Homo sapiens: one gene and its partners. The protein of the gene in region 4 interacts with the protein of the main gene of each other region in a biochemical or structural test. Each region holds a gene or a part of one and is shown on either strand. Other genes may lie near its edges. The genes, in order: SH2B2, ITK, ABL1 and ERBB2.

What was found.
Region 1: the proteins of ERBB2 (region 4) and SH2B2 form a complex in vitro, tested with the Homo sapiens proteins (2 studies listed by BioGRID and IntAct, with this or other methods).
Region 2: the proteins of ERBB2 (region 4) and ITK form a complex in vitro, tested with the Homo sapiens proteins (2 studies listed by BioGRID and IntAct, with this or other methods).
Region 3: the proteins of ERBB2 (region 4) and ABL1 form a complex in vitro, tested with the Homo sapiens proteins (3 studies listed by BioGRID and IntAct, with this or other methods).

What each region holds. Positions count from the first base shown.
Region 1 is NC_000007.14:102,310,506-102,318,066, forward strand, and holds part of SH2B2 (SH2B adapter protein 2), read left to right. Parts: intron 1-3,830; coding exon 3,831-3,922; intron 3,923-4,006; coding exon 4,007-4,177; intron 4,178-6,681; coding exon 6,682-6,890; intron 6,891-7,561. UniProt on the Homo sapiens protein: Adapter protein for several members of the tyrosine kinase receptor family. Involved in multiple signaling pathways. May be involved in coupling from immunoreceptor to Ras signaling. Acts as a negative regulator of cytokine signaling in collaboration with CBL.
Region 2 is NC_000005.10:157,176,499-157,184,013, forward strand, and holds the start of ITK (tyrosine-protein kinase ITK/TSK), read left to right. Parts: upstream 1-4,341; 5' UTR 4,342-4,479; coding exon 4,480-4,617; intron 4,618-7,515. UniProt on the Homo sapiens protein: Tyrosine kinase that plays an essential role in regulation of the adaptive immune response. Regulates the development, function and differentiation of conventional T-cells and nonconventional NKT-cells.
Region 3 is NC_000009.12:130,872,693-130,880,253, forward strand, and holds part of ABL1 (tyrosine-protein kinase ABL1), read left to right. Parts: intron 1-167; coding exon 168-345; intron 346-2,175; coding exon 2,176-2,360; intron 2,361-5,722; coding exon 5,723-5,875; intron 5,876-7,375; coding exon 7,376-7,465; intron 7,466-7,561. UniProt on the Homo sapiens protein: Non-receptor tyrosine-protein kinase that plays a role in many key processes linked to cell growth and survival such as cytoskeleton remodeling in response to extracellular stimuli, cell motility and adhesion, receptor endocytosis, autophagy, DNA damage response and apoptosis.
Region 4 is NC_000017.11:39,702,793-39,710,353, reverse strand, and holds part of ERBB2 (receptor tyrosine-protein kinase erbB-2 isoform a precursor), read right to left. Parts: exon of another isoform or gene 7,440-7,561; intron 3,365-7,439; coding exon 3,213-3,364; exon of another isoform or gene 3,150-3,212; intron 2,034-3,149; coding exon 1,820-2,033; intron 1,112-1,819; coding exon of another isoform or gene 1,037-1,111; coding exon 902-1,036; intron 542-901; coding exon 473-541; intron 269-472; coding exon 153-268; intron 15-152; coding exon 1-14. UniProt on the Homo sapiens protein: Protein tyrosine kinase that is part of several cell surface receptor complexes, but that apparently needs a coreceptor for ligand binding. Essential component of a neuregulin-receptor complex, although neuregulins do not interact with it alone.

The DNA of each region.
Region 1 (7,561 bases), on a different chromosome or scaffold from region 4:
GAAGAGCAGCAAGAAGGTTGGCTCCACCATCCAGGAGAGATGCCAGGCCAGGAGTAGGAGGGATAGGCAGCCCGACAGGCTGAGCAATTGGCAGCAGCTCTGCTGGCTAATGGGGTGAGCCAAGCCCCGGGGGGAAGGGCCGCTGCTTTCTAATTAACAGCTTCATTTAAAGAAACACAATTAAGGTCCTGGGCGCCTCCCAGGCCCTGATCCACAAAGTGATTGTAATCCCTCCTCCACCGCCCTCCGGACCATCTGCTCTGCAAACTCTTTCCCCAGCCGCTGTGAAGGTGAACCTCACTTAGTGGAATTTTCGAGCTGGCAGGGTCCCAGACACCTCATGTCACAAATCGGGAGAGAAACCTTCCCACCCTCTGAGGGTCTGCACGGGATCCCAGGAGGAGCCCAGCCCCTCAAGGATAGTGGGCAGGGATCATGGGCCCTCAGTGGGGACTGTCCACTCAGTGGTATCCGGGCCAAGAGAGAGCCTTCCCCTGGGCTTTCTGAAGTTTCAGTGGAAAATCAATTTGCAAATGGCAGATAAATGAGAGAAAAGGCATACAAATTTATTTATTTATTTTTATTTTATTATTTTATTTTTTAGAGGTAAGGTCTTGCTCTGTCACCCAGGCTGGAGTACAGTGGTGCAATCAAGCTCACTGCAGCCTCGACCTCCTGGGCTCGACTGATCTGCCTGCCTCAGCCTCCCAAGTAACTGGGACTGTAGGCACATGCCACGATGACTGGCTTAATTTTTTTTTTTTTTTGAGATGGAGTCTCGCTCCATCATCCAGGCTGGAATGTAATGGCACAATCTCAGCTCACTGCAACCTCCACCTCGCAGGTTCAAGCAATTCTCCTGCCTCAGCCTCCCAAGTAGCTGAGATTATAGGCACCTGCCAACAAGCCCAGCTAATTTTTATATTTTTAGCAGAGACGGGGTTTCCCCATGGTGGTCAGGCTCGTCTCGAACTCTTGACCTCAGGTGATCTGACAACCTCATCATCCCAAAGTGCTGGGATTACAGGCGTGAGCCACTGCAACTGGCCTTTTTTTTTTTTTTTTTTTTTTTAGAGACGGGATCGGGATCGTGCTATGTTGTCCAGGCTGGTCTTGAATTCCTGGGTTCAAGAGACCCGCCTGCCTCGGCCTCCCAAAGCACTGGGATTACAGGCATGAGCCACAGTGCTTAGCTGCACAAGGCAGATTAATAGGAGAAAAAGCATGTAAATTTATTTAACGTGTATACATAGGAGCCTTCAGAATGAAGACTCAAAGATACAGGGGAGGGCTGGGCGTGGTGGTGCACGCCTGTAATCCCAGCACTTTGGGAGGCTGAGGCAGGCACATCACCTGAGGTCAGGAGTTCGAGACCAGCCTGGCCAACATGGGGAAACCCCATCTCTACTAAAAATGCAAAAATTAGCTGGAGGTGGAGGCGGGCCCGCTGTGATCCCAGCTACTCAGGAGGCTGAGACAGGAGAATTGCTTGAACCTGGGAGGCGGAGGTTGCAGTGAGCTGAGATTGCACCACTGAACTCCACTGGGTGACAGAGTGAGACTCAGTCTCAAAAAAAAAAAAAAAATCCCAGGCATGGTGGCTCATGCCTGTAATCCCAGTACTTTGGGAGGCCGAGGCAGGCGGATCACGAGGTCAGGAGTTTGAGACCAGCTTGGCCAACATGGTGAAACCTCATCTCTACTAAAAATACAAAAATTAGCTGGGCCTGGTGGTGGCATGCACCTGTAATCCCAGCTACTTGGGAGGCTGAGGCAGGAGAATCACTTGAACCTGGGAGGCAGAGGTTGCAGTGAGCCGAGATCACACCACTGCACTCCAGCCTGGGCAACAGAGGGAGACTCTGTCTCAAAAAAAGGATACAGGGAAATGGTCCATTTTTATGCTTAGGTTCAGCAAAGTATGGACAGCAGTGTAGAAAGAGGATTGGATACAAAGGGTAGGATCTAAAGGGAATAGACTGAGCAGGGGACCCAGCCAGGCCTGTCTGTCCAGATTCTTCTTGGCCTCTCTGAGTAGCATTCCTTCCTTCTGGGTGTGGGACAGAACCCTATCTTGAATGGGGGTCTTATGACCTACAGTCAAACCAGGCAGATTGGGTAATTTCTTTCTTTCTTTTTTTCTTTCTTTCTTGCTTTCCTTTCCTTCTTCCGTTTCTTTCTTTCCTTTTGTTTTTACTTTTTTTTTCTGCTCCGTTGCCCAAGCAGGAGGGCAGTGGGGCATGATCACAGCTCACTGCAGCCTCCAACTCCTGGACTCCATTGACCCTCCTGCCTCACCACCACGCCCAGCTAATTTTCTTTTATTAAGATGAGATTCTCAGGGCCGGGCGCGGTGGCTCATGCCTGTAATCCCAACACTTTGGAAGGCCAAGGTGGGCGGATCACCTGAGGTTGGGAGTTTGAGATCAGCCTGGCCAACATGGAGAAACCCCATCTCTACTAAAAATACAAAATCAGCCGGGCGTGGTGGTACATGCCTGTAATATCAGCTACTCGGGAGGCTGAGGCAGGAGAATTGCTTGAACCCCCGGGAGGCAGAGGTTGCAGTGAGCCAGGATTGCGTCATTGCACTCCAGCCTGGGCAACAAGAGCAAAACTCTGTCTAAAAAAAAAAAAAAAAAAAAAGACGTGTTCTTGCGGCCAGGTGCAGTGGCTCACGCCTGTAATCCCCACACTCTGGGAGGCCAAGGCGGGCAGATCACCAGTTTGAGACCAGCGTGGCCAACATGGTGAAACCCCATCTCTGCAAAAAATACAAAAAAAAAAAAAAAATTAGCTGGGCATGGTGGCGCATGCTTGTGATCCCAGCTACTCAGGAGGCTGAGGCAGGGGAATCACTTGAACCCGGGAGGCAGAAGTTGCGGTGAGCTGAGATCGTGCCACTGCACTCCAGCCTGGGTGACAGAGCAAGACTCCCATCTCAAAACAAACAAACAAACAAAAAAGATGGGGGTCTCGCTATGTTGCCCGAGCTGATCTCAAACTCCTGACCTCAAGTGATCCTCCCACCTCAGCCTCCCAGAATGCTAGGATTACAAACATGAGCCACTGTGCCTGGCTGGATAATTTCTTTATGACAAGTTTTTACATAGAATATTTTTAGGTTGGCCGGGCGCAGTGGCTCACGCCTGTAATCCCAGCATTTTTGGAGGACGAGGCAGGCAGATCACGAGGTCAGTTTGAGACCAGCCTGGCCAACACAGTGAAACCTCATCTCTACTAAAAATACAAAAAAATTAGCCGGGCATGGTGGCAGATGCCTGTAATCCCAGCTACTCAGGAGGCTGAGGCAGGAGAATCGCTTGAACCCAGGAGGCAGAGGCAAAGTGAGCCGAGATCGCGCCACTGCACTCCAGCCCTGGCAACAGAGTGAGACTCCGTCTCAAAAAAAAAAAAAGAATATTTTTAGGTTTTATGACTACGTTTTGGGAAAAGGGGTTCTGGTTTCTGTGACCCACCTTGGGAAAAAGGGACTTTTGTTTCTCTGGTGCCTCTGGGGAGAAGAGGACTGAGAGACAAGTAGGCAGGAGAAGGTCAGAGAAAAACTTTTTTGTTCGAGGCTGCTGCTGAGGACTTTGTTTTGCGGTATTGTTTTCTGAGCCCCAACAGTGGCCTGGTCAATCACACGGTGGCCACAGAGCCAGTGTAGGGTGGGACAGAGGGACATGGAGGCAGAGGGAGGTGACCAGAGCCAGGAGGCCTAGATGCTGGGCCATGGGACTGCCAGCCACTGCCTGGCCACATAAGTAGCCTGTGGTCCGAGTCCAAGTCCCACGGCAGGACATGGTTTCCATTTCTTGTCTCCACAGTGACAGTGAGGAAGACACCGAGCTCTCCTGTACCCGAGGAGGCTGTCTGGCCAGCCGCGTGGCCTCCTGCAGCTGTGAGCTCCTGACTGATGGTAGGTAGGGGGACAGGGTTGAAGGAGGGGCACACTCAGGGTGGACAGATAAAGATACGTGCATCTTACCTGCCACTTCCCCAGCAGTCGACCTGCCCCGCCCCCCAGAGACGACAGCCGTGGGTGCAGTGGTGACAGCCCCCCACAGCCGAGGTCGAGATGCCGTCAGAGAATCCCTGATCCACGTCCCGCTAGAGACCTTTCTGCAGACCCTGGAATCCCCGGGCGGCAGCGGCAGTGACAGCAATAACACAGGTGCCAGTGGGGACAGCCTGCTCTTCCCATCCCACCTCTCCTGGACCCCCACCCCCAGCCATGGCCACCCATGGGCTCCCTAAACCTTGCTAAGCCTCAGAAGCTGTGACATCTCATCCTCCTGGGTCCTTCACACGTCTCCGAAGTACTTCTGGCTTTTGTAGACTGGTCTAGGAACCTGGCCCCTCCCACTGGACCCAGTTTCAATAGAAAATGTTCACAGGGGCCGGGTGCGGTGGCTCACGCCTGTAATCCCAACACTTTGGGAAGCCAAGGCGGGCGGATCACCTGAGGTCAGGAGTTTGAGACCAGCCTGGCTAACATGGCAAAACCCCGTCACTACTAAAAATATAAAAATTAGCTGGGTGTGGTGGTGCACACATGTACTCACAGCTACTCGGGAGGCTGAGGCAGGAAAATCACTTGAACCCGGGAGGCGGAGGTTGCAGTGAGCCAAGATCACGCCACTGCACTCCAGCCTGGGCGACAGAGTGAGACTATGTCTCAAAAAAAAAAGAAAGAAAAGAAAATGCTCACAGGGGCTGGGTGCAGTGTCTCACACCTGTAATCCCAGCCAGTGTTTTTTGAGGCTGAGGATCACTTGAAGCCAGGAGTTTGAGACTAGCCTGGACAACATAGCAAGACGCTATCTGTACAAAATTTTTGAGACAAGAGTCTCACTTTGTTGCCCACGCTGGAGTGCAGTGGCGGATCACAACTCACTGCAACCTCCACCCCCAAGTCCAAGCAATTCTCACGTCTCAGCCTCCCGAGTAGCTGAGATTACTGGTGCCCGCCACCTCGCCTGGCTCATTTTTGTATTTTTGGTAGAGATGGGGTTTTGCCATGTTGGCCAGGCTGATCTTGAACTCCTGCCCTAAGTGCTGGAATTATAGGTGTGAGCCACCACGCCTGGCCACAAACATTTTTGTGCCTGTAGTCCCAGCTACTTGGGAGGCCGAGGTGGGAGGATCACTTGAGCCCAGGAGGTCAAGCCTACAGTGAACTGTGATCACACCATTGCACTCCAGCCTGAGCAACAGAGAGAGACCCTGTGAAAAGAAAAAAAAAAAAAAAAAAGAAAAGAAAAGAAGAAAGGAGGGAGGGAGGGAGGGAGGGAAGGAAGGAGCTCACAGAAAAGGGTCCATAGGGTTGGAATCAGGGATTGGGAACAGGCGACTGGATTTGTTCCTAAGTTTGCTGATGACTTACAGAGTAACTCCAGGATAGTCCTTCACAGCTCTGTGCCTCAGTTTACCTCATAGACTTCACCAGTGGGTTGGGTCAGCTCCCTGCCCAACTCTAAAATTATTCCAGCTGGGCACAGTGGCTCATACCTGTAATCTCAGCACTTCAAGCAGCCAAGGCAGGAGGATCGTTTGAGCCCAGGACTTCCAGACTAGTCTGGGCAACAAGACTCTGTCTCTACAAAAAATAAACAAAAATTAGCCAGGCATTGTGGCACAGGCTTATAGTCCTAGCTACCCAGGAGGCTGAGGTGGGAGGATTGCTTGAGCCCAGGAGGCCAAGGCTGCAGTGAGCTATGATTGTGCCACTAGACTTCAGCCTGGGTGACAGAGCAAGACCCTATCTCAAAAAATAAATAAATAAATAAAATTATTTGGCTGGGCGCAGTGGCTCACACCTGTAATCCCAGCACTTTGGGAGGCCAAGACGGGCGGATTGCCTGAGCTCAGGAGTTAAGACCGGCCTGAGCAACATGGTGAAACCCTGTCTCTACTAAAAATACAAAAATTAGCCTGGTATAGTGGTGCATGACTGTAATCCCAGATACTTGGGAGGCTGAGGCAGGAGAATCACTAGAACCTGCAAGACGGAGGTTGCAGTGAGTCGAGATCACGCCACTGCATTCCAGCCTGGGCAACAGAGCAAGACTCTGTCTCAAACAAAAAAATATTCAGGCCAGGTGCAGTGGCTCACACCTGTAATCCCAGCACTTTGGGAGGCCAAGGCAGGAGGATCACTTGAGCCTAGGAGTTTGAGACCAGCCTGGGGAACACAGCAAGACTCCATCTCTAAAAAATAAAAAATAAGGCTGGGCGCAATGGCTTACACCTATAATCGCAGCACTTTGGGAGGCCGAGGTGGGTGGATCATCTGAGGTCAGGAGTTTGAGACCAGCCTGACCAACACAGTGAAACCCCATCTCTACTAAAAATACAAAAATTAGTTGGGTGTGGTGGTGGGCGCCTGTAATCCCAGCTACTCGGGAGGCTGAGGCAGGAGAATCGCTTGAACCCGGAAGGCAGAGGTTACAGTCAGCCACCGGGATTGCAGCATTGCACTCCAGCCTGGGCGACAAGAGCGAAACTTCGTCTCAAAAAAAAAATAAAAACTAAAAACCAACCAACTTTTTAAACATTATTCCAACAGCATTTTGCATGTAAAAAAACCAACAAGACGTCACCTCTCTTCTCACATTTATTTATTTGTCCCCCTTTCTCCTTCCCCCCATGTTCCTCACACTGTCATCCCCACCTCAGGGGAACAGGGTGCAGAGACGGATCCCGAGGCTGAACCCGAGCTGGAGCTATCCGACTACCCATGGTTCCACGGGACACTGTCCCGGGTCAAGGCTGCTCAACTGGTTCTGGCAGGGGGGCCCCGGAACCACGGCCTCTTCGTGATCCGCCAAAGTGAGACTCGGCCTGGGGAGTACGTGCTGACCTTCAACTTCCAGGGCAAGGCCAAGGCAAGTGTGTGGGGGGCGCCATGGGGGTGCAGTGGCCAGCCCTGAGGGAGAGGGGTCATGGTGACCCCGGTCCTGAGGCTGTGCCCTGGAAGCAGCTGCAGGCGAACAGGTGTGGCATGACTTCCCACGGGCCCCACTCACCCCAGCCATGCTCCGTGAGCCACCTGCGTCCCTCCTACACATCACTGAGGGACTGCAGTCAGCCCTATTTCAGCCTCTGCATTCTCCAGAAGGGGAGGCCACCTACTGGCGGCTGAGCCCTCAGGAGGCTGGGCCCTTCTAATAACCCAAATTTGCAAATCCTTTCAGCTCCTGCGCGCGGGGGATCTCATAGCACTGGAGCTTCGGAGGGTCTCCACCCAGAGATCGCCCAGTGGGGGGTGGGAGCCAACCAAGGCCCTCAGAGCCCCACCTTCTGCCCCACCGACCTCAGACAGCCCCTCTTCCCTGCCCAGGTTAGGTCACCAACCCCTGAGGAACACACACGGGCAAACCCTAGAGACCCAGCAGGGGAGGAGGAGCTGGGCTGGGTGGGAGAGCTGTGCAGGGTCTAGGGGGTGGGGTTCAGCATTGGAGGGGACAGCCTGATCAGAGACCTGCAGGGGAGGGAGAATTGTGGAGGGGAAGACAGTCAGGAAGGCGATCCCAACAGCACCCAGCTGGATCAGAGG
Region 2 (7,515 bases), on a different chromosome or scaffold from region 4:
TGCAAGAAAAAGCAGCAATTGTTCATCCACCACATCCCAAGGACATCATCCCCAGATTACTGCTGCAGCTTCATGAACGTTGCACCCTTTACCCCTCTTCCTCTTTTCCCTCCAGCCTGAGCTTCCGACTCAGGTGTGTCAGAAACCAGGCTTGTGTGTGGGAAAAGAGAGGTTAGGACATGGTGGAAAAGCCAACATGCTTCAAATCCTGAAGCAAACCCATGCAAAGTTACGGAAAAGCATCAACTTGAATACATGTTTGGAGTTTTGATTATTACCTTGAACTGAACTGGGCTTTCTTTTTCTTTTCTTTGTATTGTTGTTGTTGTTGTTGTTTTGAGACAGAGTTTTGCTCTTGTCACCCAGGCTGGAATGCAGTGGTTCAATCAGCTCACTGCAACCTCCGCCTCCTGGGTTTAAAGCTATTCTCCTGCCTCAGTATCCCAAGTAGCTGGGACTACAGCCACCTGCCACCATGCCCAGCTAATTTTTGTATTTTCAGTAGAGACGGGGTTTCACCATGTTGGCCAGGCTGGTCTCAAACTCCTGACCTCAGGTGATCCACCCGCCTCGGCCTCCCAAAGTGCTGAGATTACAGACGTGAGCCACCGCGCCCAGCCCCTTTTTCTTTGCTTAACTTTTTATTATGGAAATTTTCAAACGTGCATCGGTGCAAGGAGAGTAGAATAATGATGTACCCATTAGCCAGCTTTAGCAATTATCAAGTCATGGTCAAACAGTTTTCATCCCTTCCCCTACCAATTTCTCCCCCTCCACTGGATTATGATGAAGCAAATCATAAACATTTTATTGTTTTATCAATAATTCAGTGTATGTTTCTATACAAAATAAGGACTATTTTAACATGATAATAGTGCCATTATTACATCTTTTTTTTTTTTTTTTTTGAGATGGTGTCTTGCTCTGTTGCTCAGGCTGGAGTGCAGTGGTACCATCTCAGCTCACTGCAACCTCCGCCCTCCAGGTTCAAGCGATTCTCCTGCCTCAGTCTCCCAAGTAGCTGGAATTACAGGCACACAGCACGACACTCCACTGACTTTTGTATTTTTAGTAGAGACAGGATTTCACCATGTTGGCCAGGCTGGTCTCGAACTCCTGACCTCACGTGATCCGCCCACCTTAGCCTCCCAAAGTGCTGGGATTATAGGTGTGAGCCACCACACCCAGCCCATTATTACATCTTAAAAAATAACAAGTTTCTCAGTATTATCAAACATCTCTTTAACATTCAAATTTGTCTAATTGTCTCATAACGTCTTTATACAGTTGATTTGCTTAACTCTTAATCCAAAGTCCAAACATGCTCATATGTCTCTTAAAGTCTCTTTTAATCTAAGGGTTCCCCCTTTGATTTATTTGTTGTTTTGTTTTGCTTTTGTTTTTTGAGACAGAGTCTGGCTCTGTTACCCAGGCTGGAGTACAGTGCTGCAATCCCAGCTCACTGCAACCTCCACCCACTGGGCTCAAGTGATCCTCCCACTTCAGCCTCCCGAGTAGGCGGGACTACAGGTGTGTGCCACCATGCCTGGCTAATTTTTTGTAGAAAAAGGGTTTCACCATGTTGTTCAGGCTGGTCTTAAGCTCCTGGGCTCAAGCAATCCACCCCCTTGACCTCCCAAAGTGCTGGGCTTACAGGCATGAGCCACCGTGCCCTGCCCTCTATGACTTATTTGTTACTGATACTGAGTCATTTGTCCTTAGCATGTTTTGTATTCTGGACTCATCCAATTGCATCTCCACAGTGTCATTTGTCAGGTTCGTTTATCTCTTGTATTTCCTGTAAACTCGAATTTATATCTCGAAGTTTGATTAGATTTGTGTTTGATTTTGTTTTCTCTTGGCAAGACTCCCGAGTTGCCAGTTTTGTGTACTTCCTCTTGCTTCACCTCAGGAGACATACAATGTCTGGTTGTCCTTCTTTTAAGATTAATCAGTGTGTTACAGTGTTGTCAGCTTCATATGACAGTTATACATTTTCCTATTGGCTTTTTGCGTAATAATTTTAACAGCCATTGATGATCATTGCCTACATTTATTATTTCATTGGCATTGCAAAACGATAGTATTCTGTCACTCCTTCATTGATTAGTTTCTTGGAAAAAAAGAACTTCCTCATTAAATACTTGATCACTGAATTGAAAGATAATTCTTCAAGAAAAGCAAGCAATATGTTTTATTTTTTTCCTTTGTTTCCAGTTTTCAGAAAAACAAGTTGGTTCTTCAGCATCCTCCAAAAGTGATCAAAAGGTTGGGATGCTTTTTTCAATTCTCTTTTGAACTCATTGTTTTAACATTTTTGCTGTTCTTCAATTCATGGCAATTATTATTCCTTTTGATACTCAAATTGTTCCATCTTTGGCAAGTGGGAACTCCTTGAATTTGGCTCCTATGAAGTGAACTTTTTAAAACCAAAACAAACAAAGGGACTATTTGTTTTTGTTTATGTTTTCCTTAAAGTGAGAAAAAAATATTGAGCCTCCTAAGTTTGCATTTAAAAGTTGGCAAAGATGAGTCTCAGTTAGTGGGTTTGATGGCTCTATGAGAAAGAGAATAAAATTACTTACGATGACACTCCATGTAGACTGAGCAAACGAAAGACTCCTAAGTATTGCAACAGCTACTGATGATATTTTGTTTTCCCGGATGAGAACACTTTGTGAAGTCTATAACTCTTTTCATCTGAACCAAGCAGGTGTAAAATGTACTTTCCTCAGAGGAGTTTGTAGTCTAGTTTGAGAAGATAGCACTGTATTATCTAGGTTTGCTGGTAGTGACAGAAACCTCAAAATAACTGAGACTTAGAAAATAGATATTAAAAAATGTAATCCAGGGCTGGCATGGAAGATCCATGGTCACCAGGGTCCCAGGCTCTTTCTATCTTATACTCCATTGTCCTCAACATTCAATTTCCACCTCATGATACTAGATAGCTGCTTCAGCTCCAACTGTTACCTCAATATTCTAGTCACAAGGCAGGAGGAAAAGGGAAAGAAAAGGGGATGACAGATCCCACTAAGGAAATTTCCTAGAAGTTGTGCACACGACTTCTGCTACATTCAGTTGACCAGAAGACAGTCATACAACTACACCTAGCTACAAGGGAGGCTAAAATTTGTAGTCTTTATTCTTGCTGGCCAGATGCCCAGATAACTGTCAGGGATTCTGTTACTCTAGTAAGAAGGAGAGAGTAGCTATTTGGGAATAGTAGCAATCCCTACCTCAAGCCCATACTCAGAAAAAAAAAATACTATCTTGTTTGGGCAGTGTATTTCCACACATATGTCTTAAGAATCTCAGAATGGGGGAGGTAATTTAAAATATACCAGTACCGTACCCTCCTGGGTGTCTTGATTATGCTGGGGCATCCAGTATATGAAATAAAATTAGGCTGTTGTCTGGTAATTTACATTTAAAAATAAACATTGGAGAATTTCACTCCTATACAGCAATAATTATTATTTCATTTATTATTTATCCCTACCCACTACATGCAATATCTGCTTACACTAAAATCTCTTGATTATTAACATAGTAGAGGTAACTGTCACACATTATACTTCAACTATGTACTAACTCTAAGGTGACATGTATGACTAGCACCTACCATTCATAAGATGTATGGGATTCAGTCCTCCAAAGGACCCTCACAAGGAAGCTAAGGATCAGAGAAGTCATGGCTTGCTCAAAGAGAAACAGCATAGTAAGTGACAGAGCTGGGAATCCAACACAAGTTTGTCTGTTTTCAAAGCCCACATATACTTTGTTTATTATGCCATTCTGAAGGATTCACTTATTTTTCACTCTTCCACAAAACGTCAGGACAGAAAGGCAGTCATCTATATGTAGCATTGAGAAATTTCTATGGGCTTTAATTTAAATCTTAAAAACTAATAAACTTCAGCAACATATTTCTTCACTTTAATGTGTGAGGGTTTTGTGCTCATTACCTCTTTTAATTGTCCAACCCAATTTGGTGATGATCCATTCAACAAATTTTTCTTGAACATCTGTTTTATGTGTCAGGTACTGTGATGGTTGCTGAGTATATCATGGTAAGCAAAACCACACATTGTCCTTACTCCTTGTGCTACATGATTTAACTGCTGGATGGATTAAACCAGGAACTATAAAGATTAAACTGTAATCCTTACCACAATTTTGAGTTTACAGTTTTTCAAATATCATTTCAAGCCATTAGCAAAGGCTGTATGTATTTTTTACATATGCCTCCTCGTTTTGTGAATTTTGAAAGGATGTGGTTTCGGCCTTTGACATCAGAGGAGAAGCTCAGCTATGTTGGCTGAACGTTGATAGAAAGATAACGTTGAAGGCAAGTTGCCCTTGAGCAGCTCTCTGAAGATCAACTGCCTCCACATTGCATTCTTTGCCCCAAAACTCTTTCCTTTGGTTGTGCTAAGAGGTGATGCCCAAGGTGCACCACCTTTCAAGAACTGGATCATGAACAACTTTATCCTCCTGGAAGAACAGCTCATCAAGAAATCCCAACAAAAGAGAAGAACTTCTCCCTCGAACTTTAAAGTCCGCTTCTTTGTGTTAACCAAAGCCAGCCTGGCATACTTTGAAGATCGTCATGGGGTATGTGAGCAGTTTCATTTGTCTTTTTTCGCATAGCATTTTATGTTTGGACTGGGCTAATGCAAAAATATATACATAGCATAAAATAGAGCACAGGAAACACAAACATGCTTATTGTAACAACATAAAAAGTACAGTAAAAGTAATCAGAGGAGAATGCAGAGAGCAGTCAAGAGGTGAAATGGTGGTGCTAGGTGATTTCAGTTCTAAAAACTGTAAATTTAACATTCATCAGCTTTTTCCCCCTGCAAGGTTATGTTTGGTTTTTAAATTATGAATAACATTTTAGGTAGCAAGTATTATGATTCGATAAAACTTGAACTTTCTATGAAACATACTAAATTTAATGAAACATACTAAATTTAATGAAACATAGATTAATACAACACTAGCATTCAATGGGATGATCTACCCCAGCTTTCTTATTTTTTAGTGGAAGAAACTGGTGTTTAGAATGGTTAAGTTTTGGGTTCAGTGTTAACGTTTTCATGAATAACTCTGTTTGTCTCAATACTCGTCGCTAGCCTGATCTTGAAATAAGATTTCCCAGGCATTTAATTATCTAAAAGTTGTAAGGCACAATGGCAAACCTCTTCATCTCTTGATAGACTTCTTAGGACACCAGGGTTATTAAGAACAAAGTTTCTGCAGTGCAGACCAGCGGTTCTTACCCAGAAGGAGTATGGCTGCTTTGCTAGGTCAGTCTATCTCTTTATCTAAAAATAGTCTTGTGCTTCTTAACATCACTAATAACAAAAGCAACAGGAATAATCCTAATAATGTAGTTTGGTAGAAAAAGCATTGGACAAAGGGTCAGGAGACCAAACTCTACTTCTCAGTAGGTGATCCAGTCTGGGCAAATGTCTACCTCCTGTTTCAGGTTCTTTCTTCATAAAATGAAAAAACTGGAAATAACAACCTTCAAGATCCCTTTCTTCTTCAAAACTTCTTTGCTTTATGCAGTGGCTCTTGTTTAGCCCTATGCTGCAATTTTTCAAAGCATGTTTGATTTCTTACTGTATGGTTATATTATTTTTACATCATTAGTGGGGTAGGACAAGGATTATCACTTATATTTTACTGAAGGGAAAATAATATTAGGTGCCTGATGGTCACTTAGAAACAAAAGTGCTCCAGTTCTTTGTTGGAGTCTGACTTAGTAGGTGGTGGCATGAGTTTGGGATTCTTTGGTGTGCCAGGGTTTAAAGCACTTCATGAGATGGAGCTCCAGAGGAGGTCAGGCTGGGTATAGAGCCTATGGATGCCTCACTTTTTAAAGTTGCAGGTGTTGCATGTCTTTTGTGAATTAAAAAAATACAGAAAACAAAAAAGTTGCAGGCGAAATAGCTCTGCCTCTTTAGAAGTGAAAAGAATTGCTTGTCTTATTATCAGACTCTTACTGATAACAATTTACCAGTCAATCAGAAAACACATGGAATTACGTGCAAGTCCTCTTTGCTAGGTGGCCAGGAGCCCAGTTTGTGAACTTGGGGGATTTATCATGTAGAGCTAATAAATCGCATGGCATTACTCAATGCTTTTTTGTGAATGGAACATTTAAAGTTTTTGTTTCATATTGAAAGAACAGTCATGTACCTTTAAATATTTTTTTCAAAGTCCATTTTGCAGTTTTCACCAGTTCGTTTTTCTGATTCAACATAGTATCATCTCATTTAGTTAGTATTAATAATTCCTTAGCCCAACTGCTATTTGTGAACTGATTGTGAATTCAGCTCAATATTATTTGTAAGTAATCACAAAACCAGATGGCCTTAATTCAGAATATTATTGGTCATAATTTGCATGTAGACAAGGTTGTAAAATCACCCTACTTCTTTATCTGAGCATTATGGAAAATTTCAAGACAATTACTTCATTCTGGGGAGCCCTAGGCTACAGTTTCTAATTCTTCCATGTGAGATATAGAGAATACATGTCCAAACATCAAATTTCTTGTTTTCTAATGCCTTTTTTACTCTTATAAATAACATTTTAAAAGTATTTCTTTAATTATTTAATTATTATAGAAGTTTATTAATTAGAAATTTATCCAAGTTCCCTGAAAAAGGTAATATATGTGAATTATTATTGTTCATGTCTTAGGTATACTACATGGTTTCAGGCCACCAATTTGCACACAAGGCTGCATTAATATTACTCATAAGTAAATAACATTACACTTATGGGAAGAACATTTTCATTTTTAAATTAAAGGCTTCATTTTCAATCTGTAAAATGGGTGTGATAATAGTACCCATTTCATAGGAAGATGGCAAAGACTCAGAGGTATAATGTCTTTAGGCTGAACTTTTTGAAATTATTTGGCAGATCGAATATCAGATATTAGAAGTTTCAAACAATTCAACTTAATATATTAGGTACTTAGCATAGGCCCTGTCATCTGGTAAGCATCTAGTAAAAATTAACCATTATTTGTATCCCTTTCATGTCTCTACAGAAGCTAGCAGGCTGTCATAACAATTCATTTTCAAATTATGGGAGATATTCAAGGATTCTTCAAAGTCAAGCTAAGATCAGGGTCCTGGATTCCTTCTATTCTGTGGCTAAATATAAGTTTTGTGGGGTAGATATACATGCATTATGAGCTGTTTGGCCAGTTATTGCCCCTCTTAGGGTGTCGGGTGTCAGAGCTTCTTTTTCTCTTTTCTCATGTGTAAAATTATGATTCTTGCAGTTCTCATATTCTATGAATTTATAACACCATATGAAAAATAACCCTTCTACATACTCAAGAACATATTCTGTAATTCTAGAAATCAAGTATGTTTATTCTAACCTAAAAAATCATGCCTATTGTCATTATAATACTAATTGATTGAGGTTTTACTTTAACATGGTTTTAGTTCTGGTGTTCGATGCCTGTTTTTCCTGTTGAGA
Region 3 (7,561 bases), on a different chromosome or scaffold from region 4:
CCCACACGAGCACAGTCTCAGGATGCAGGTGCTTGGGACCATGTTGGAAGTTGGGCCCAGGACTGAGGAGCAGAGTCAGAATCCTTCAGAAGGCTTTTTCTTTAGACAGTTGTTTGTTCAGTTGGGAGCGGAGCCACGTGTTGAAGTCCTCGTTGTCTTGTTGGCAGGGGTCTGCACCCGGGAGCCCCCGTTCTATATCATCACTGAGTTCATGACCTACGGGAACCTCCTGGACTACCTGAGGGAGTGCAACCGGCAGGAGGTGAACGCCGTGGTGCTGCTGTACATGGCCACTCAGATCTCGTCAGCCATGGAGTACCTGGAGAAGAAAAACTTCATCCACAGGTAGGGGCCTGGCCAGGCAGCCTGCGCCATGGAGTCACAGGGCGTGGAGCCGGGCAGCCTTTTACAAAAAGCCCCAGCCTAGGAGGTCTCAGGGCGCAGCTTCTAACCTCAGTGCTGGCAACACATTGGACCTTGGAACAAAGGCAAACACTAGGCTCCTGGCAAAGCCAGCTTTGGGCATGCATCCAGGGCTAAATTCAGCCAGGCCTAGACTCTGGACCAGTGGAGCAGCTAATCCCCGGAGTAAGGAATATTTCATTTTTGAACCATTTTGGGCTAAGTGGAATATTAAATGAAGTTCATAAAAGGCGTCCTTCCTAATAATCACAGTCCCCTCTGAAAGAGAGTACTCATTGTTCCTCCGGGGCCAGCGCCCAGCAGTAATGGCCTCTTCCTGGGAGCCGCTGGCATTGCTTTTACGCAAACTCATGGGAACAACCAGTACATGGCTTTTGTTTTTTAGTGTGTGTGTCTTTTTTTCCTGCTTTCTCTTTATTATCTTTTCATTCTCCACTTAACTTGCTGTCCTCTGATTCAGGGATGTTTCCACAATTGTCAGAATTGTGTATGTGGAGGTCTAAATTAAGTGTCTTTGCTGTTTTAAACCCTGAAGTGTTTTGACCTTCAAATGTGCCACAATTATCTTGGTCTTCAAATTCTTTGCTGGTGGAAATGGCTTCCCAGCAAAGCGACGGCCTGTGCAGGACAGAGCCTGATGGGCTTTGCTGGCGTCTTTTATACGAGATGTTCTCCACACCACCACTGTGACCTTTCCTACCCAATTAGCTCAAGTATGAAACCTCTACATGAGATTTCATAGCAAGGAATAAGGGTAGCATGTGTGAAATGCTGGCGGCTCCTTGTAAGACAGATTTTCTATGCTCCATGAGAGCCTGATCCAGATACTCCTGGCTTTCAGGAAAGTGAATCCTCTGATGCTGCAAATTGAGATTGCTTGACTTCTGGTTTGCCTGGCACGGCCGGGTCCGTTCCTTCTTCATTCAAGCGAACTTAAAATGCTTTATCAAAATCCTCTTAGGCACAACTCTTCTGTATTTAATTTCACTCTTGTTGCTGACGATCAGGCTATCTCACGCAGCCATCACCTCAAGCTGCTGCCCCCTCTCATTCCGCTCTTCCCGTTTGCCTTGTGATTTCATGGTTAATGTTCATGAACCAAAGATTAGACTCCTACCTCCCTGGGAGAATCAGGAAGTGAGAGGAAGCAGATTATACAGGAGAGAGTTTTTTAGGATACATTTGGGTACACCTCAGGAAGAAAGAGGGAAGTAGGAAACACAGTTTGGGTAAAGAATGCCATGGGCTTTGTTTTATTTTGTCCCATCAAGTCTGAATAGGACAAGTGGAGATGCACTCTGATAGAAGTTTCTTGCAATCAAGGACTGGGCTCAGTGTTTGTCTCCGTGCCTGGCATAGAGTAGCAATAACTGCACTTACTATTCTCGACACTTCAATCAAAGCACTTAGCATATTAATTAATTACACTCACAGCAACCCTAAGAGGTAGGTGCCATTATTATCGTCTTCATTTTACGGATGAGGTAACTGAGTCCCAGGGTAATTAACTTGCTCCAGGTCATGAGGCCAGGGAGCCCGCTCCCAGCACCAGCCTCTCCCCATGTTGGGATCTCAGGGTGTGTTTGCTGAGAGGCTGGCACTGTGTTAATTGCCGTGGGCATTAATACAAACTTCCAGGGCATTGGACTCAATCTTTCCATTGTCAGCATTGCACCTTTGCTCAGCAGTGGTGGATTTGTGAAGTGGAAGGTTGGCCAGGAGCTCTCATGGGTGAACATTTTCCTTTCTTAGAGATCTTGCTGCCCGAAACTGCCTGGTAGGGGAGAACCACTTGGTGAAGGTAGCTGATTTTGGCCTGAGCAGGTTGATGACAGGGGACACCTACACAGCCCATGCTGGAGCCAAGTTCCCCATCAAATGGACTGCACCCGAGAGCCTGGCCTACAACAAGTTCTCCATCAAGTCCGACGTCTGGGGTAAGGGCTGCTGCTGCACTGAAGTGGTCCTTCCTGACTACAGGAGGGTTTTTTTCTGCCTCTTTCTTGCTCTTCCCTTTCTTTTCTTCCTTTCTTTTTGTTTTTTTGAGACGGAGTCTCACTCTGTCACCCAGGCTGGAGTGCAGTGGTGCAATCTTGGCTCATTGCAGCCTCTCCCTCCCGGGTTCAAGCGATTCTCCTGTCTCAGCATCTTGAGTAGCTGGGATTATAGGCACCCGCCACCACACCCAGCTAATTTTTGGTATTTTTAGTAGAGATGGGGTTTCACCATGTTGGCCAGGCTGGTCTAGAACTCCTGACCTCAGGTGATCTGCCTGCCTTGGCCTCCCAAAGTGCTGGGATTACAGGTGTGAGCCACTGTGCACAGCCACCCTTTTTTTTTTTTTTTTAACTGTGTATTTGGCCTGAGGTCCAAATATGGTGCACAGTGTATCTGCTGATCTGTTAAGTCTCCTCTATAAGCCCCCTCTCCATGTCTTTATTTCCCTTGCTGTTTATTGAAGAAACCATCCTTAGAGTTTCGTACGTTCTGGGTTTTGCTCATTGTCTCCCATGGTGTGATTTAATATGTTCCTCTGACTTCAGTATTCCTAGTAATGGGTGGCTGGATCTGGAACGGCCTCATCACATTCAGGTTTGACTGTTTCTCTTTTAGTAAGAGTGGATCAGGGGAGATGGTGTGCCCTTCCATCAGTAGATACAAAATGCTTCATTTATTTCCTTCCTTCCTTTCCTCCCCTCTCCCTCCCCTCCTCTCTTCTCCTTCTCCTTCCGACGGAGTTTCGCTCTTGTTGCCCAGGCTGGAGTGCAGTGGCACGATCTTGGCTCACTGCAACCTCTGCCTTCTGGTTTCAAGCGATTCTCCTGCCTCAGCCTCCTGAGTAGCTGGGATTATAGGCGCATGCCACCACCCCCGGCTAATTTTTGTATTTTTAGTAGAGACGGGGTTTTACCATGTTGGCCAGGATGGTCTCCAACTCCTGACTTCGTGATCCACCCACCTCGGCCTCCCAAAGTGCTGGGATTACAGGCGTGAGCCACCACGCCTGGCCCCAAAATGCTTGATTTGCTATCGTTTTTTTGTGGGGGTTTTTTTTTGAGTAATTTTTGGCAGTTACTGATATACAGTGCCTAGATCCAATAGTTTGCTAGGTATTGCCAGGTAGGAATTCTCTAATTCTGTCATTCCTGTTAAGTTACTAGTGGAAACTTGTATGAGGAGAAACAGTTCCTCATCTGTGTGGTTACTCAGTGGTACAGTTCATGTAGGAAGAGCAGGGTCAATTCTTGCTTCTTTGTTTTTATTTACCAGTTTTTAAAATAACAAATTACTTTTTCTTTTTTTTTTTTGGAGCCAGAGTCTTGCTTTTTCTGGGGTACAAAGTACAGGCTGGAGTTCAGTAGCATGATCTCGGCTCACTGCAACCTCCGCCTACCAGATTCAAGCAATTCTTCTGCCTCAGCCTCCCAAGTAGCTGGGATTACAGGTGCCTGCCACCACGCCTGGCTAAATTTTTTTGTATTTTTAGTAAAGATGGGGTTTCACCATGTTGCCCAGGCTGGCCTTGAACTTCTGAGCTCAGGCAGTCCACCTGCCTTGGCCTCCCAAAGTGCTGGGATTACAGGCGTGAGCCACCATGCCCTGCCACAAGTTGGTTTCTTTTTTTTTTTTTTTTTTTTTTTGAGACAGTCTCACTCTGTCGCCCAGGCTGGAGTGCAGTGGCATGATCTCAGCTCACTGCAAGCTCCGCCTTCCGGGTTCACGTCATTCTCCTGCCTCAGCCTCCCGAGTAGCTGAGACTATAGGCGCCCGCCGCCACACTCGGCCAATTTTTTTTCTATTTTTGTAGAGACGGGGTTTCACTGCGTTAGCCAGGATGGTCTCGATCTCCGGACTTCGTGATCCGCCCACCTTGGCCTCCCAAAGTGCACAAGTTAGTTTCTTAATACCCTTCAGTGGTGGCCAATTAGGTTTTTGCTGTCATTGGTGGTATTATGAACTCTCAGATTTATATATATCTGATGTGTTTCAGTCCACTGCGGTTATTTTCCCTGTTGATATTCAGATTGTCTCGTCTTTGGCCAGTGGGAACTTCACATTAGCTCCTAGTCATTTTGACATTAACTTTGTAGTTTTCCATGACGTCCGCGCCCTCAAATGACAAGCTATTGCAGGTTCATTCTGTGCCCCAGGCCTGAATCACCCATTTCTCTAAGGAATCTTATCCTTTAATGGGAAATGGAATTTTAAGGCAATAATCTCAGATTTCAAAACTTTCAAAGATTTCATAAGATTTTTATGAAATGTTTAGAGTTAGAAGGGGCTTTGGAGATAGTCTTGTGCACCCAGAAAGCAGTGGTGGCCGGTTAGGCACAGAGCTGGTTGGTCACAGAGCTAAGAGTTAACATGGCCAGCTGACTTCCGGCGCCAGGTTCCTTCTACCACATATCCCAGCAAGATGGTCACATTACCTAAAAGACCCCACAGGGTCTGAAACTCATCATCTGCCCTCCTCTAGCATGTTTGTGGGGTAAGTTTACTGAGTCTTGTTCTGTCCTGGTCTCCTTTTTTTTTTTTTATTTTTGAGACGGGGTCTTGCTCTGTCGCCCAGGCTGGCGTGCAGTGGAGCAATATCAGCTCACTACAACCTCCGTCTCCTGGGTTCAAGCAATTCTCCTGCCTCAGCCTCCAAAGTAGCCAGGACTACTGGCGTACACCACCACACCTGGCTAAATTTTTTTTTTTTTTTTGAGATGGAGTCTCGCTCTGTCACCCAGCCTGGAGTGCAGTGGCGCGATCTTGATCTTGGCTCACTGCAAGCTCCACCTCCTGGGTTCACACCATTCTCCTGCCTCAGCCTCCCGAGTAGCTGGGACTATAGGCATCTACCACCACGCCCGGCTAATTTTTTTGTATTTTTAGTAGAGACAGGGTTTCACCATGTTAGCCAGGATGGTCTCAATCTCCTGACCTCGTGATCCGCCCGCCTCGGCCTCCCAAAGTGCTGGGATTACAGGTGTGAGCCACCGTGCCCGGCCCCTAATTTTTGTATTTTTAGTAGAGATGGGGTTTCGCCATGTTGGCCAGGGTGGTCTTGAATTCCTGACCTCAAATAATCCTCCCACTTCAGCCTCCCAAAGTGCTGGGATTACAGGCGTGAGCCACCGCACCCAGCCTTGTCCTGGTCTTCTGATGATAAAGAGCCTGGTAAAATGTCAGAGCCTGGGCTGCTGCTGGGGCCATCCCTTCTGAGGTCTGCTGCAAAGGTAACTGATTTTAAATGTAGTGTAGTGAAATGCTACACATCTTGAACAGCCTTTCTCTTTCGGTTTTCTTTCAGCATTTGGAGTATTGCTTTGGGAAATTGCTACCTATGGCATGTCCCCTTACCCGGGAATTGACCTGTCCCAGGTGTATGAGCTGCTAGAGAAGGACTACCGCATGGAGCGCCCAGAAGGCTGCCCAGAGAAGGTCTATGAACTCATGCGAGCATGTAAGCCTTCCTCAGCCTGTTCTCACGAGTATATGTGGGCATTCCAGGAAATTCAACTGTGCAGGAGTGTGTACACAAAGTTGAAAGTTTTTCCATGAGCTCTCTCCATTCCAGTTCTTCAGATGCAGCTAATGTAGCCATTTGCTACCTATTGACCTTTATTTACAGATAAATAGTATGTGCGTGACTTGTCTTTTAAAGCAAAAATGGTATTGATAGATACCAAACCTGGGTGTATTCCTAAATACAGATTCCTGGGCCCTGCTTTCACAGACATTCTGCTATAGTAGCTAAGCTCATGAGGTGATTTTTTTTTTTTTTTTTTTTGAGACGGAGTTTCGCTCTTGTCGCCCAGGCTGGAGTACAATGGCGCAATGTTGGCTCACTTCAACCTCCACCTCCCTGGTTCAAGCGATTCTCCTGCCTCAGCCTCCCAAGTAGCTGGGATTACAGGCATGCACCACCACGCCCGGCTAATTTTGTATTTTTAGTAGAGATGGGGTTTCTCCATGTTAGTCAGGCTGGTCTCCAACTCCCAACCTCAGGTGATCTGCCTGCCTCGGCCTCCCAAAGTGCTGCGATTACAGGCGTGAGCCACCACGCCCAGCTGCGAGGTGATTTTTATCTGGTCGTTTTATACTGATTACATATGTGTTATCTGTACTATGCACACACAGGATGTTTTCATATATCTTATAAGGTATTTATATGGCCATTTCTTACACTGTTTTCCCACACATGTCTTTCCACGTCCATATATTCAGATCTCTCCCTCTCCCTACCTCTTATTTATGTATAGCTGCCCAGTACTCCATTTCACTCATTCATCCGGTCCTCTTTTGATGTGCATTTGGTTGTTTTACACATTTGTTTGGTTTTTGCCCTTATAAACAAAGCAGAAACAAATATTCATGTACACGAATCTCTGGGCACTTTGGCTGGTATTTCTAAAAGTTGAACTGTTGGTTCCAAGAACTGTGTGGGTTTTAAATTTTGATACATTTTACCAAACTGTTAAAAAAGGTTGTGCCATTGTATGCTCCAGTCAGACGCATATGGGAGTGACTGTTCCTGGTCCCCAGTACTAGGCTTTGTCAGTCTGTTTAGTCCTCATGTTAGTCTCATTTTCATGAGAATTTCTTTACTTCAGACTTTGATAACCGTGAAGAAAGAACAAGATAGAAGGTGAGCTGTTTGGCTTAGTAATTTTCTACACCTACTAGAGCGGGACTGGGAAAAATATATTTGTAAATGCAGTTCTTGCTGTCACTGTCTCTCTGGGGTTTTACAATCCATATTCCTGCCAGCATCTAACGTCTTTTCAAATTCTTAATGTCTATAACAGGACATGATGACATTCATCGTTTTGACTTGTTGCAGCAAAAGATGGTTAGCAGGATTGGAATGTTGCTTTCATTCTAGACTTTTCCTTGAGAACTGCTAGCCCCGTATTGCTAGCCAGATCTCATGGATGATCTGACTTGGGTTTCATCTGTCCAGGTTGGCAGTGGAATCCCTCTGACCGGCCCTCCTTTGCTGAAATCCACCAAGCCTTTGAAACAATGTTCCAGGAATCCAGTATCTCAGACGGTAAAGTACCCATCCCGGGGTACCTGCAGTGGGGTGAAAGGGCAGCCATGTGGGACTGCAGCCTGGGTCATTCGGTTCACTTCCTGGTGAAAGTTC
Region 4 (7,561 bases):
AAGTGGAGGCAGGCCTGGGGGGACAGGTGGCTGGCTTTCACTGTGCTGTTTTGCCCTGGTGTGCCAGGGGCAATAGGGCAGTACCAGGCAGGGTGCCCACCCCTTGCATCCTGGGGGGTAGAGCACATTGGGCACAAAGCAGAGGCACATACCAGGCAGTCAGAGTGCTTGGGGCCCGTGCAGCCGGCAGCACACTGCTCATGGCAGCAGTCAGTGGGCAGTGGCCCCTTGCAGCGGGCACAGCCACCGGCACAGACAGTGCGCGTCACTGTTGGGCAAAGGGCAGGATGAGGGCTGAGTGGCGCCCTGGGCACCAGACCCTCATCAGCATCACCTTCTAGGGAGACTACCTGGCCCAGGGGAGACATCCCAAGCCTGTTATCCCACCCCTCCCATGTCACCTGTATGACACCTGCATTCCACCCGGCCCCAGCCCTCCCCTTCCCTGACTCCAGGCCTCCCTGAGACTCACGGCTCTGACAATCCTCAGAACTCTCTCCCCAGCAGCGGGAGCCCTTACACATCGGAGAACAGGGGTGGCCTGAGGACAGAACCAGAGACAGGCAGTGAGAGAGATGTCTAACAGCGAGAGGACGGGTTAGTAACAGAGAGAGGCACAAACAGCAGCAGAGGCCACGAGGCCAACTGCACAGCAAGGGAGGGACCCAGACAGGCTGAGAGGCCCCCAAACCAGAGGCACAACCTATAAGCAGAGGGAGACAAGACAGAGAACCCCAGAGATGAAGAGGCACAGGGAGATGGCAGGAGGGACAGAGAGGGAGGAAATGGGTGGTGTAGGCGGCTGGGGCAGTGGCGGGCAGGCACTGGGTTGTAAGTTGGGAGTTTGCGGCTGGGGTCAGGCTGTCTGAGAGAAGAGGCAGCAGGGAGGGGCATGGCTTACAGGCCCGAGAGCGGTTGGTGTCTATCAGTGTGAGAGCCAGCTGGTTGTTCTTGTGGAAGATGTCCTTCCACAAAATCGTGTCCTGGTAGCAGAGCTGGGGGTTCCGCTGGATCAAGACCCCTCCTTTCAAGATCTCTGTGGGGTGAGCAATGATCAGAGGACCCTTTCCCCTTCTGTCACCTTCTGCTTCCCTTGGGGCCCTCCTGCCTTCTAAAAGAGGAGCAGGCCTTTTAAACAACCCCCAGATTCCCCAGGGAGGAGAGAAAGCTATCTTTACCGTCTTTGAGTCCCACCACCACCACACCCGCAACAAGAACAAAGCGAGAGCCAGGGAGGAGTGAGTTGTCCATGCTAGGTCCAGATGCTCATGTGGACCGCAGCTCTCTCCTTCCTTCTCACCTCTACTCTGGGCATGCTGCTTGGTGGTTAAGAGACTGTGGAGTCTGAAACTCAGCCCCATCACTCACTAGCTGTGTAACTTTTGGCCCTTATATCTGCAAGCCTCAGTTTTCTCATATGTAGAATGAGAATAACACTGATTTTTTCCTGACAGGACTGCAGCGTGACTGAAATGGGCCATGCGGGCAAAGCACCTGGCACCCAGACTCTGGGGCAGAGTCGGCTCCAGGGCCAGCAAATAGTTACATAGGTTGTTCACTGTACACTTCACTCAGCCAAGTGGGGGCAAAAACCCAGCCTGCATTCTCACGATTGAATTATATGTGCTGACGCAAGCTACAACTTCCCAGGAAGAAGGGGAATCTTTTTCCAATCTTCTGAGGGCGTCTTCCCGGGCTCTGCCTGCGTCTGCCCAGAAGGGACACCATTTCTAATGCACACAAAGCCTCCCCCTGGTTAGCAGTGGCCCTGGTCAGCTCTGAATAACCAAGAGAAGGTTTCAATGACGGTGAAGGCCACCTGTGAGGCTTCGAAGCTGCAGCTCCCGCAGGCCTCCTGGGGAGGCCCCTGTGACAGGGGTGGTATTGTTCAGCGGGTCTCCATTGTCTAGCACGGCCAGGGCATAGTTGTCCTCAAAGAGCTGGGTGCCTCGCACAATCCGCAGCCTCTGCAGTGGGACCTGCCTCACTTGGTTGTGAGCGATGAGCACGTAGCCCTGCACCTCCTGGATATCCTGGGAGGGGGAAGCAGAGTGGGGCTGAAATAGGAACACTGCCACCCCCCAGGGCCTCCCTGGGGTTCCCCAGTACTTGGAGATCTTGGGCAAGGCCCCCAGCCACTGAGCAGTCCTGTTCCCGCTTAAATAAAACGATAAAATAGAGATAAAGATCACGCCCTACCTTGCCTCACCAGATTCTTATATGATCAAGAAAGATAATGGTGGGGGGGCATTTCATAAACTCCGAACAGGTGCCCTGCCCTCTCTGTATCTCAGTTTCTTCATCAGTGAAAGCAAAGGCCTGGATGGGATGGCGTCTGCAAATTTTTTTTTTTTGAGACGGAGTTTCACTCTTGTTGCCCAGGCTGGAGTACAATGGCACGATCTAGGCTCACCACAACCTCCGTCTCCCAGGTTCAAGTGATTCTCCTGCCTCAGCCTTCCCAAGTAGCTGGGATTATAGGCATGTGCCACCATGCCTGGCTAATTTTGTATTTTCAGTAGAGACGGGGTTTCTCCATGTTGGTCAGGCTGGTCTCGAACTCCCGACCTCAAGTGATCTGTCCGCCTCGGCCTCCCAAAGTGCTGGGATTACAGGCATGAGCCATCGCACCCGGCCGGCGTCTGCAATTTGACAAACCAAGCATGTGGCCCCATTCCAGGGTCTGTGGACACGATCCAGCAGGTTGGTTTCCACTCTCCCTCCTGTTCATAACCTTTTCACAGACATTTCTCTTCTGAGCTTCACAACTGCTCCCAATATACAGATAGGGAAACTGAGACCCAGTGAAGCTAAGGGGGTGTAGGCCACATTCATAGGGCTCGTCAGTGGCAGAAGTGGGCCTGTAATCCACCTTTCTCACCAGCCCTTTCTTCTGCTGTAAGTGGGAGAGGGATAGTGGCTGGAGCAGGTGGACAGGGGACATGATCATGCTGGCAAGAGAGCACAAGATTTAGCGGAAACACAGACGCATCCCATCCAGACATGACCTCGGCCAGCCACGTTATAGAGAGAGTCAACTGATTCTGCAGTAAAATGAATGGGGGTTAGATGTTAGAAAGGACTTCCTGGTTGAGAAACCACAACAAGAGAGGAAACAGAAGGGCAGGGCACCTTCTTCTGCCACCCACCTGTAAACAGAGGGCTCAGCCCAGCTGGAGGCAGGGCCTGGCTGGGTTGCCCACGGGCCTCACCTGCAGGAAGGACAGGCTGGCATTGGTGGGCAGGTAGGTGAGTTCCAGGTTTCCCTGCACCACCTGGCAGCCCTGGTAGAGGTGGCGGAGCATGTCCAGGTGGGTCTCGGGACTGGCAGGGAGCCGCAGCTTCATGTCTGTGCCGGTGCACACTGGCAGGAGAGAGCAGATGGGTCAGAGGACACTGGCGGGGGACCTTCTCAGACCTGGCCACCCCATCCAAACTCACTCCAAGTCATGCCACCTCAGACAGGGAGAAGCCTGACTGAAGGACCCCTCCGCCCATGTCCCTTGCACACTGCAGGTTTAACAGCAGGAGAAAGCTTGCGTGCTTGGGAAGTAGAGGGATTTCAGGGGAAAGGCTTCTTCTGACTAGGCCCACCCTGTGCATTCAGAGGCTGCCCCAGCGTGCCAGCCCTGGGGAGCTCGCCCGCCAGTACAGGGTGTTGGCTGGCAAAGAAAGGCTTCCTTTGTCCCAAAGGCACAACTCAGGGCAAAGGGGTAAAAATCCCCCAAGAGAGGCGATGACGAATCATGAATCTTCTGGATACCCCCTGCCCCTCTCCCAAGCAAACAAACTCGGTGCATTCTCCCTATGCCATTCCAGCACACCCACATGCCAACCTCTTGGCAAGGGATCCACACCCCCGTAATGCCACCCAGAGAGTGGGGAAGGAGGGTCAGCTGGAGTTGCAGCTGAGGCATGGGACAACCGGGGCTCTGGTCATTGCAGAGACCTCTGGGAGTCCCCCATGAAGAGAAAAGGAGCGTCAGATTCCAGTTGTGGGCATCTGGACCCAGGCTGCAGATCCCAGGCCAGGGTGAAGCATGCGCCAAAGGTTCCTGCGCTGGCACCCTCACCCTGGCCACCTCCTCAGGGCAAGACTCCAGAACCAGCTGGCAGAATGTGTGCCACGAAACTGCTGCCACAAAGGCACTACGTCAGCCCTGCATACCTGCCCAGCGCGAGCCATCAGCCATGGGGCATAGGGCTGAACTGCCACACCTGGCCCACTTGGACCCCAGCCTGGTATCCCTGAGACCAGAAATGCCCACTAAGGTCAGGAATACTAGAGGAGGTAAAGCACCCCTGGTGAGGGGCGCCGGGGTAGCAGCTCACACCAGGCCTGCCAGTGAGGGGAGATTAAAGTGCCCAGTTGAACTTGTTTTTCTGCTCTGGTGAGATGAATCACCTGGCGTGTCTTGCCCAGGAGATCGGAAGGGTGGGGGCAGAGGGCACCCTCAGGCCCACAGGTGCCTGAGCTGCCCAGAATTCCTGCCGGTCACTGCTCCGCCTCCCACAGGCTACATGCAGATTCAGGGACAGCACAAGGGCTGGCTTGGGGTCTGACACCAGAGGCACTGCTCTCCCAGCAAGTTGGAGCCTAAGGTCAAATCCTAGGGGGTAATACGAGGTACCCCCTGCCTTCAGATTGCTGGGAGAGGCTGGTAGGGCAAGCCCCCAGGTTCCCTGCCTGGGCCAGTGGCCAGTGGCCACAAACTGGTGGTCTCCTAGTGATACTCAGAATGGCCTCTATTCCCACCTCTCTAGGCAGATAAGGACAAAGAGGGAGGAACAGGAGGGAGGAACAGAAATAGAACTCAAGGGTCCATGTCCCTGAGGGAGGCCTCCCCACTCCATGCCTCACCCACTTGCACCCCCTCCTCTTCCCCACACTTCCTCCCCCAACAGACTCCCAAGAGAAACAGGAGCTGGGGGTGGCAGGCCAGGCCCAAAATAACGCCCTGCTGCCAGGACCTCCCCCGGCCTCAGCCCTTCAGCTGCTTTATAGACACAGCTGTCTGCAGGCCCAGACCCCAGGCCCTGGCCCAAGCCCAGGGTCTCCACAGGGCTGGGGCAGGGTCCGACTCCACCCCCTGTAGCCCTTTTCAAGGGATACCAGCTGTGGCCGCCAGGCAATAGGAAAACAACAACAATGGGGAGTGGGGGCCGCCACAGTAACTGAGCTGAGCACCTACTGTGTGCCTGGCAGGCACTCTCGGTGGATCTGCATAACATGCTCCAGAGACTGGGGCTGCAACCTCCATCTTGCAAAGAAGACAACTGAGGCTGGCAGGGGTTAGCTCTCGCCTCATAAAGCTTGTGAGCAACAGGCAGGACTGGAACTCAGGCTGGCCTGCCTTCAGATCCCACATTCCTTCCACTAGGCCTAACTGCACACACACAAATCCACCCCACACCCCACGCCAACATAAATACACACTAATTCTCCCAATGCCACCGATAAACACCACAGGCTCTACGGAGGGCAGGGTGGCTGGGCTGGGTTGGGCTGGAGGGTCAGAACGGGTGGTAGCCCCACCCCACTAGTGAGTTTGTTTACCTGATTTGTGGCCAATTTGAGTCTGATTAAGAATCTTAAAGTGTTTGCAGACAGGTGGTAAAATTGGTACCCTGAGAACGGTTCCCAGGGAACTGGAGGCTTGCTGGCTAACACCCCCACCAGCCTACATGAAGTCAAGAAGGTCTTCCTGACACCTCCCTCCCACTCTCCCATCTCCTTACCATTGTCCCCATATCTGCCCTGTCCCATTGGTTTTCTTTTTTTGAGATGGAGTCTCGCCCTGTCGCCAGGCTGGAGTGCAGTGGCGCAATCTCGGCTCACTGCAACCTCTGCCTCCCGGGTTCAAGCAATTCTCCTGCCTCAGCCTCCTCAGTAGCTGGGATTACGGGTGCCTGACACCACACCTGGCTAATTTTTGTATTTTTAGTTGAGGCGGGTTTCACCATGTTGGCCAGGCTGGTCCTGAACTGCTGACCTTGTGATCCGCCCGTCTCGGCCTCCCAAAGTGCTGGGATTACAGGTGTGAGCCACGGCACCTGGTCCCCGTTGATTTCCTGGGGGGTAGGTCCTAATTCTACCCAGGAGTGTCCTTGTCTCCAGGACCCTGCCCCTCAGGAACCCCAACCTCCAATTCTCCAGAGCAAAGACAGTATGAGGCAGGACCAGCCACAGGGAGCGCTAGATAAGTGTCTGCTGAGTGAATGAATGAATGAGTGGATGAATGAAGTCCAGTCACGAGTCTCCGAACAAAAGGGACCAGTTGAGGTCATGGAATCCATCTCTCTGCTCAGAGCTGGTCACAGTCCTTCATGTCTCTCTGGACTCTGGTGGTCAGGACTTGACCCCAGTCCTGAGGTTTCTCTCAGGTGGGTTCTCTCCTCCCCACCAGCTTGCAGCCCCAGCTGCTCCTCTTGCTCACAGCAGAAAAGCCAATACTTCCCTTGGTTTCCATGAATACTACAGTAAAATGACCTGTGTCCCCAAAGCTCAGCTCTCCCAGACCCATAATGTCACAGCCCATTCAAGTGACACTGGGATTCCCCGACCACAAACACCTGGTGTATCAGGCCTGACATCAGACCAGGGCCTGGGCCCAGGGTCTTTAGTTGAGAACCCTAGCTCAGCTGCTCACTGAGTGATCTTGAGCAAGTTCCCAGACCTCCAGGGCAGAAGCTAAATCGGATTCATCTCTATGCCCTGCAGTACCTGCAACTTGGTGAATATTTACTGACCTAAACTTGGCTGTAACAGCTCTTACTCCCTCAGAGGAGGTACATGAGAGTTAAATGAGGTAATGAATTGCGCAGCCATCTGTAAACATGACGAGGCTTTGTAAACAGAACTGGGACAACACAAACATTCGCTAGAATAATTCTCCCACTCCTTGAAAGAGTACACATCCCTTACCCCACCTCGGCTCTCTTCCCAGGGGGAGGATGGGTGGCCAAACATAAGATGGAGATGTCACTCTAGAGGGGCTTCTCACAGGTGGAGGGCAGGGAAGGAATCTCTTTCCAGATCATTCCATCACCCAAGGACAGGCACAACTACCCTGGGCCCCACCCCAGCCCTCCCAGCCGCAGCCCCACACTGGCCCCTCACGCTGACACTTCAGCTGTCTCTCTCACCCACAGCCCTGTGTGTCAACGTGGCCTCTGTCCCCTCCTGCCCGCAGCCCCCTGTCATGCTGGTAGGGCCCAAAAGGAAGACAGGCATTGGCTGGACAGGAAGGGAGAGGACTCTGAAGTCAAGAGGGAACCTCAGGGCCCCCAGCTCAGCTCCACTTTCTACAGCCTAGAGAAGTGGATGGAAAGGTCATTCGCCTGAACAAGAGGAGCGCTTCTCCTCCCATCTGGCCACCTGCCTGCCCCTAAGGCTTTGTTCAACCCATTATTGTTGGCTGGAATAAGACTCTAACCACCTCTTAATGCCTCCTCTTCAGAGTCCAAAAATTCCCTGGACATTACTGGGTAGCTGGGAGCCTTGGATAAGTTGCTTCATTTCTCTGAACTTCCATTTTCTCATCTGTGCACCTACTTCACA